Linked DNA regions of Homo sapiens: region 2 is linked to region 1. Evidence: fine-mapped expression QTL. A gene starts in region 1. The other region holds a variant in brackets. All regions are shown on one strand. Distances are from middle to middle. Region 1 holds the start of CRTAP (cartilage associated protein). Region 2 overlaps LOC124909361 (a long non-coding RNA gene).

What was found. PIP is the estimated chance that this variant, and not a neighbour inherited with it, causes the effect.
Region 2: its variant is the best candidate, but not a certain one, in a credible set for the expression of CRTAP in skeletal muscle (GTEx, PIP 0.58).

What each region holds. Positions count from the first base shown.
Region 1 is chr3:33,111,648-33,116,041 of GRCh38, reverse strand. CRTAP (cartilage associated protein) reads right to left here and starts at 2,028. Exons shown (of 7, transcript NM_006371.5): 1 at 1,494-2,028. The coding sequence starts at 1,964. RefSeq lists enhancers at 326-1,317, 4,198-4,394 and silencers at 1,269-1,458, 1,899-2,198.
Region 2 is chr3:32,378,083-32,382,476 of GRCh38, reverse strand. LOC124909361 (a long non-coding RNA gene) reads right to left here. Exons shown (of 2, transcript XR_007095859.1): 2 at 3,974-4,302. Among named protein-coding and RNA genes, the nearest start is that of CMTM7, 12 kb to the left of the region's middle. The variant GTCTA/A (reference allele first, on the strand shown) is at 2,004.

The DNA of each region.
Region 1 (4,394 bases):
TTAGATAAGTCATTTTTAGCTTAAAAAATGATGCTTTGTATGAACCAGCCCTCATTTTCAACATTCTGGAATTTTATTAATCTCATTCCCTGCTTCTGTTTTAAAACTGTTTTTTTTTAATTGCCAGAACAAACATTCACAAAACTGATACTTTAAATAAAACTGTAACTAAGCATAGAAGTATAGAAGTAACCCAGCTTTTCCCCTCTTTGGGGTTTTGTGTTATTTTATTGCTCATATAAATACAATATACACGTGGCTCTGTCTCGGTGGAAATCTGAAAAAACAGATCTTGCAGTCCAGAAACTGAAAACAAAGTTTAAAAACAAAAACCTTCTACCTCAAGAGTCTAGGATATGCCATGAATCTATTTTTGTAGTAATTTTAAAAAACACAATATATTCCTTTTAAAATCTTTCTCAGAGAAAGTAGAAACTGGGCTTTGAGAGGGCTCTTTTAGCCAAACCCTGTGAGGACCCACCAAGCTAGAGCCTCTTTATCTAGTGACAGGGAATCTAACCATTCTTAAAACTTGTGGGTCCTCGGAGTGAGAACCCATAGGATAGAGAACTGCAATTTGTGGCTATTTTTAGCCAGCAATCACAGAGAGAACTTAAGCAGCCATTAAAAGGAGGCAGTGAACTGTGTTAAATTCTAGATGAAAGAGAGAAACAGCGGAGAGGGCCAATCCTGATGACTCACGGTGCACGAGTTCCCCTTTAAGCAGGGATGTGTCCTTGCAAGGAGTCCCTGCCCTTCCCTGGCCTCAATTTCATCCTCTTTAAAAGGAACTAGTCAGCTGGGTGCAATGGCTCACGACTGTAATCCCAGAACTCTGGGAGGCGAGGTGGGAGGATCACTTGAGTCCGGGAGTTCGAGATCAGCCTGGGCAACGTGGCGAAACTCTGTCTCTACAGAAAATACCAAAAAATTAGCTAGGTGTGGTGGCGCGCGCCTATAATCCCAGCTACTCAGGAGGCTGAGGTGGAGGATCACCTGAGCCTGAGGAGGTCAAGGCTGCAGTGAGCCATGATAGCGCCTCTGCACTCCAGCCTGGGCGACTGTGAGACCCTGTCTCAACAAAAAATAAAAATAAAAGGTACTTGTCGGCTCCTCAGGTCTTCTGCTTTATTATCGCAAGTCACCGCTCACTTGAGAAAAAAGGCGACTTTAATGGTATATACAGAAAAGAGGCGTCTGCCCTCAAATAACAGAGAACATTTATCAGGCACTTTGTTGGGTGCCTGGCGCTGTACTGCGTTCTGTGTACGTATTCTCTACCTTAGAGTTACCCTTCAAGAAAGGCATTTTCATCTCTAGTTGAGATGAAGAAGGAGACAGGACTTGGAGGAGACCTTTGGCAGGGCTGGATGGGAGGGAGCCAGGTCTAGAACTGGAGGGGCAACGCGGCCCCGGGCGCAGGGGCGGGGCTAGGGCCTGGAGGCTGGGTCAGGGGCGGGGCCGGGGCCTGGGACGGGGCGAGGCGGACTTGCCTTGAAGTAAGCGAACTGCAGGAACTTGTAGGGCTCGCGGCGCTGGAAGTCCGCCAGCACCTCGCGGCTGGGCTGGGACTGGCGGAAGGCTGGCAGGCCCTGCTTGCAGCGCTTGAGGCAGTGCGCGCGGCGCAGCAGGCCCCCGAAGAGGCGCAGCTCGGGATAGCTGGCGAGGCCGGCGGCGGGCTCGGGCTGCGGCGCGGCGCTGCAGTTGCGGTGGCAGAAGGCCTCGCTGTCGCGCAGCAAGCGGTGCAGCCGCAGGCTGATCTCCAGGTAGCCCACGCTCTCGGCCCAGTGCTCGCCGCTGTACTTGTCCAGCGCGTGCCGGTAGGCCGACTCGAGCGGCATCAGCTCGTCCCGTGGGAAGCTGCGGAAGCTGTAGCGTTCGTATTGGGCGCGCCCGGCGCGCAGCGCGCAGGCCACGCACAGCAGCGCTAGCAGCGCCGCGGCCCCCCGGCGCCCCGGCTCCATCGCGCCCGGCGAAAGGAAGGAAGGAAGGGACGAAGGAAGGGAAAAGGGGAGGGAGAAGGAAAGGAAAGAGGACGGTGCGACGCGGCGGGCCCAGTGCTTTCGGGGCGGGGACGCCAGCCTCCGGCCCGCCCCGTCCGGCCGCCCCTCCCCACCCAGCCGGGGGATCTGGGCGCCAGCTGCCAGCACCTAGAGGGTGCCCGGGAAAGGCGCGCTGCGCACTGGTTCACGCAGGCTGATGCGCATGATGGGACTCTGCCGCTCATTCACTTGGAGACCCGCCTGCAAGGCCGACGCGGCCCTAATAGATTATATACATCGGCCCTACGGTCTATATAATCTACGATCTTTATATTCGTTTGGAGGTTTGTGAAAACGAAGATTCCTGGGCTGTGCCCCCAGAGTTTCTGATTCAGAAAGTCTGGGGTGGAGGTCTGACGATTTGTGTGTTTAACCAGCACCCTGATGAGGCTAATGCTGCGGGCCCAAGGGCCGCACTTTTAATAGCACTGCCCAACCTTAAATTTTAGTGAGAGAAAAAGACAGTGCAAAAATAAAATTAATAAGGATGTCAGCACTTTGTAAACTGTATAGCTAGTCAGGTTGAAGATGTGCACACCTTATGAATCTGCAACACCATTCGGTGGAATATGCTGGAGAAGCTTGCGCGTGTGCATCAAAAAATATGGATGGAATGTTAATGGCAGCACTTTTAAAAAATCTTTAAACTTTTAAATCTTGAAATAATTTACAAGAAAGCTGCAAAAACAGTACAAAAAGTTCCTATATACCCTTCATCAAGATTCACAAGTTGCTAACGTTATACCACATTTCTATCTTTACATTTTTTTCTGACTCATTTGAGATAGGTTGCATGTATCAGGCCCACTGTCCGTTAGTCTTTTTTTTTTCTTTTTTTTTTTCCTTTTTTTTTTTTTGAGACGGAGTCTCGCCCTGTCACCCAGGCTGGAGTGCAGTGGCGCGATCTCGGCTCACTGCAACCTCCGCCTCCCGGGTTCAAGCAATTCTCCCTGCCTTAGCCTCCCGAGTAGCTGGGATCATAGGCACACACCACCATACCTGGCTAATTTTTCTATTTTTTACTAGAGATGAGGTTTTGCCATGTTGGCCAGGCTGTTCTTGAACTCCTGACCTTAGGTGATCTACCTGCCTCTGCCTCCCAAAGTGCTGGGATTACAGGCGTGAGCCACCGTGCCCAACCCCTTAGTCTTTCAGTATGTATGTCCTAAGAATGAAACTACCAGACAATCAAATTTAGGAAATTTAATACTGATAGAAGACTTTAATCATGTTCCATTTCCGGTTATGTCAGCTGTTCCAATTATGTCTTTCATGGCACTTTTTTCTCTTAGGATGCAGTCCATCCGTGATCACTGTTACATCTAGTCTATTTCATATCCTTTAAACTGGTTCCTCGGCTTTTCTTGTCATGCCGTTGTCATTTTTGAAAAATATAGGCCAAAACAGCAATGAGATACCACTACAAAATCCAAAACACTGACAACGTCACATGCTGACAAGGATGTGGAGCAACAGGAACTCTCATTCATTGATAGTGGCAATGCAAAATGGTACATACAGTTTAGAAGACAGTTGGGCCGTTTCTTACAAAACTAGGCATACTCTACTCATACAATCCAGAAATTGCACTTCTTGGTATTTACCCAAATGGGTTAAAACTTATGCACACACCTGCGAATGGATGTTTGTAGCAACTTTATTCACAATTACCATAACTTGGAATCAACCAAGATGTCCTTCAGTGGGTAAGTGGATACATAAACTGTGGTATATACACACAATGGAATTTTATTCCAAGCCAAAAAGAAATGAGCTATCAAGCCATGAAAAGACATGGAGAAGTCTTAAATGCATATTACTGGTTGAAAGAAGCCAAACTGAAAAGGCTACATACTGTGTGATTCCAGCCAAATGACATTCTGGAAAAGGCAAAACTATGGAGACAGTAAAAGGATCAGTGGTTGCTGAGAATTATGGAAAGGGAGGAATGAATGGGTAGAGGACAGGATTATTGGAGCAGTGAAACTATTCTATATGATAGTATAATGGTGGATATATGCTATACATTTGTTAAAATCCATAATATGTACAACACTAAGAGTGAGCCCTAATGTAAACCGGACTTTGGGTGATAACGATGTGTTGATGTAGGTTCATTGATTGTAACAAATGTACCATTCTAGTGCAAGACATTGACAGTGGGGGAGCTTGCGCATGTTGTAGGGTCATGGAGTATATTTGAACTCTGTAGTTTCCGCTCAGTTTCGCTATGAATCTAAAACCACTCTAAAAAATAAAGTCTTTTTTTTGTTTTTTGTTTTGTTTTGAGATGGAGTCTCGCTCTGCTGCAGAGGCTGGAGTGCAATGGCATGATCTCAGCTCACTGCAATC
Region 2 (4,394 bases), 730 kb after region 1:
CCACTGCACTCCAGCTTAGGTGACAGAGCAAGACTCTACCTCAAAAAAAAAAAAAAAAAAAAAAAAAAAAAGAGGGGGGGAATACATTAGAGGAAACATCTGGGAATTCAAGAAAAAAAGTGGAAAGAGCACTGGATTCAGATTTAGAAGACCTGGATTGGAATTTAGGGGCCTCAGAGCCATTCTGCACATCAGTCTCCACATCTGCAAAATGGGGTTCACATAGCTTACCTCATTGGGCTAAGGACTAAATGAAATTATACTTATTCAGGTATTTGGTTCCTGTTAGTGGCCTCTGAAATAGGCTGGGATGAAAGTGGTTGGGCTTGGCATGTTGGGAGCATTGGCAGACAAGTGCAAACAGCACTTTGAGCAAGAATCTAGCAAAACAAAACAAACCAAAACAAAACACCCCTCTGGGTTGCCCTTGGCTTAGTCCCACCCTCTTTTGCGTCGCCCTCGCCCAGCTTACGTGCATTGTCCGATATCCCGTCAGGTTCCCAAAACAGAGCTCTGTGCACAGTTGCGGGTGGACAATAAAATTTGCTAACAATTATTTCCTGGCTGTGGCCACTTGTACTTAGTTCCAGCCGGCAAGAGATAATTTGGTGCTGAATTGCACAGGTGGTCCCTGCATTACCCCATCTCCCCACAATGTATCTCTAGAAAAACCACCATAAAGTTGACTGTCAACCAGCACTGATGTTTGTGTGCTTCAACATGATTGACAAAAAGAGAAGGTTTGACATTGGCCAGTGAGGGAATGGTGACATTTGATGGATCAGGCAGTGAAGCTTTAGACAGTCGACTCTCATTTTCTGATAACTTCCTGTGTGATTATTTGCCATATCTCCCCAGGTAGACAGACTGTGGCCTCCCTGTGGACATTCCGCTTTGTGAGTGCTCTCTATTGGTTATAACTTGCAGGTGGGTTGCTTCCTCATGCTTTTGGCTGTACCCGTAGAAAGGATGGGACAAGGGGAGGAGCCCCTAATTCCTTAAGCAGTGAGAAGGTCTGCGTTAAGGCCAGTTTGGCTTTTCTCGACCTCTGGAATAAGCAAATGGGACTCCAGTTGCTGGTCTGCCTGCAAGTGACATTGTCCGGACCTCAGTGATTGCATTTGTGAAATGTTCACCCAGAAATGGGTTTGAAATGTTGAGAAAGGCCATCGAACACCACACAAGTGTGGGGCATCATTAGTCTTTGTGCTAATGCTTTCTGCCAGAACTGGTACTTCTTTATGAAGCTACCAGCAGAGAAAGGAGAGAAAAAAGTGGAGACAGAGAGACAGGGAGACAGACAGAGACAGAGGGAAAATACATTTATCTGGGGAGAAAAAAGCATTGCCATTTGTTATGGGCTGTATTATGCCTCCCCTGGCCCCCCACCAAATTCATATGCTGAAGTCCAAACCTTCAGTACCTCGGAATATGACTGTATTTGGGGACAGGGCCTTTAAATAGGTAATTAAGTTAGAATGAGGTTGGTAAGGTGTGCCCTAATTCAATATGACTGGTGTCTTTGTAAGAAGAGGAGATTAGGAACAGGCGACACAGTGAGAAGGTGACTAAGTGAGGACACAGTGAGACGGTGGCCATCTACAAGCCAAAGAGCGAGGCCTCAGAAGAAACTCAATCCGCCGACACCTTGATCTTGGGCTTCTAGTCAGAAGTGTGAGAAAATAGATTTCTGTTGATTAAGCCACCCAGTCTGTGGTATTGTGTTATGGCAGCCCCAGCAAACGAATACACCATTTATGTTTTGCATTCAGAACCAATAAATAATTCTTTCAGAAGACAAATCTCTTGACCATTCTCAAAATATCAAAAGCATTTCTTCAAAAATTAAAAACTGTTTTTATCCTTAAAACTTGGGGATACCTCTTTGCCTTATTTCTGAATGTAAATATATTTAAAAACTGTAAACGTTATAGTAACAATAAAAAGGAAACAAGCACGAAAAATAAAAGCCTTTTAACCAAGGCTTCAACTTTTTTCCCCCT[GTCTA/A]TCTGAAGCTTTGTGCCCTTTGACCAACATTCCTCTCTCCTCCCATCAGGCTCTGGCAACCACCGTTCTATTCTGCTTCTATGGAGTGTGACTTCTTTAGATTCCGCATATAAGTGAGATCCTGCGGTATTTGTCTTTCTGGTGCCTGACATTTCACTTAGCATAATGTCATCCAGGTTCATCCTTGTTGTTGCAAATGACAGGATTTCCTTCTTTTTTTTAAGCCGAACAGCATTCCATTGTATGCCCACATTTTCTTTATCCCTTTGTCTGTTGATGGACATTTAGGTTGCTTCCACTTCTCGGTTATTGTGAATAATGCTGCAATGAACACGAAACTGCAGATACCTCTTTGACATGCTGAGTTATTTTCCTTTGGGTATATACCTAGAAGTGGGATTGTTGGATCATAGGGTTGTTCTATTTTTAACTTTTTGAGGAACTTCCGTACTGTTCTCCGTAATGGCTGGACTAATTTACATTTCCACCAAGCGTGCAAGGTTCCCTTTTCTCCTTATCCTTCCCAATGCTTATCTTTTTTGAGAATGGCTGTTCTAGTAAGTGAGAGGCGATACCCAATTGTGGTTTTGATTTGCATTTCCTTGATGATTAGTGATGTTGAGCATTTTTTCATATACCTGTTGGCCATTTGTATATCTTCTTTTGAGAAATGTCTGTTCGGGTGCTTTGCCCGTTTTAAAACTGTGTTGTTTTTTTCTTGAGTTCCTTATATATTTTATTATATTTACCCCCTTATTAGATTTGCACTTTGCTAATATTTTCTCTCTAAACTTAAACGTTTAGTTAAGACCAAGTTTAAGTGCTCAAGCATTAAGGATCATGCCCTTAACTTGTAGGAGAGGCTGCCCTTCAGCCTGTGCCAGCTCTCATTTTATATACCATTCCAACGAGTCTAGTGAAAATTAAGAACACTTCATTAGAAGGGGTTAGGCTGCTGCAGAGGGGAGATGTACGATCATAAAAGACAGACTGTACTGTCAGTCTGGACAGTGAGGAAAGAGCCTATAAATCTATGAAAAGTAGACACAGGAATTAAGAATGAGGCCATTTGGGGTGGGACTTTGCTGGATTACAGCACTATTCTTAATGACCATCATCCCTTATTTTATTTTTTAAATTTTATTTATTTTTTAGAGACAAGGTCTTGCTCTGCCGCCCAGGCCGGAGTGCAGTGGCATGGTCAGAGCTCACTGCAGCCTCGAACTCCTGGGCTCAAGCAATCCTCCCATCTCAGCCTCTCAAGTAGTTGAGACTATAGGCGTGTGCTACCGCACTAGGCTAATTTTTCTGTTGTAATTATTTTTTTTTTTATAGAGACAGGGTCTTGCTATGCTGCCCAGGCTGGTCTCGAATTCCTGGACTCAAGCAATCCTCTCACCTCAGCCTCCCAAATTGCTGGGACTACAGGCACATGCCATCATGCTCAGCTACCCCTTATTTTTAAAAAGTTAAAGTCCAGTGCTATTTAAGAAATCACAGAAGACTATTACATGTTATACCTTCTCTAAGTATGGTGAACGAATGTTCTGGAATTGTGTAAGACAGCAGAATAGTGTGAATGCAAGAACTTCTCTCCATGTAGGCTAGAAATACAAATGTAAATTCTCATAGTTTTTTTTTTTTCCTACTATAAGTAAGTATACAGATGTAAATTTTCACAATAATCTTGTTATTCAAAATTTGTAAATGAGTGATTTGCAGGCAGGCAGACTCTCTTTCTTACTTTATCCATGAAATCTTTCATAAATGAGATAAATGATGACCAAAGCTGACTATACTTCCTGCCGAAAAAAAGGCAAAGGCAACAGGTGCAGTCCCCTCAGTGGTCCTCATGCAATTGCCCAGGCTGCTTGTTTGTCTTTGCAAAGAGGCTGGAAGATTTTAATTTTTCCACAAATAGGATACTGATTGTTTCAACCTACTAAGACTACTGCTTTATCTTGTCTTTTAGTTAAAAATATTTATTTCCAGATTATGAATGTATTTTATGCTTACTGGAGAAAATTGGGAGAAATACAGAAAAACAAAATAAAAAATCACCTTGCGATCCTGCCACTCTTTACTACTCAAGTTTGCTCTGCCTTTTGTAAATTCAAAGTTACACCATAAACATTTTCTACTAAAAACTCCTTGTAAACAGTTTTCAGTGCCACTGATATTTTTGTGTGCACAACTTTTCTCCATCACGTATTTTTAGAAAGACAACATGTTAACTGATCTTCGATTTAATGACCAATCTAGCAACCACGGTTCAGCACAGCTTGAGAAGTGTATCTGTTAAAAATACAAAGTGGAGTCATTAATAATGGTGTTAGCCGATTCTGATTCTGAATAATCTTGGGAGGGGATATTGGGAGTACATTAAT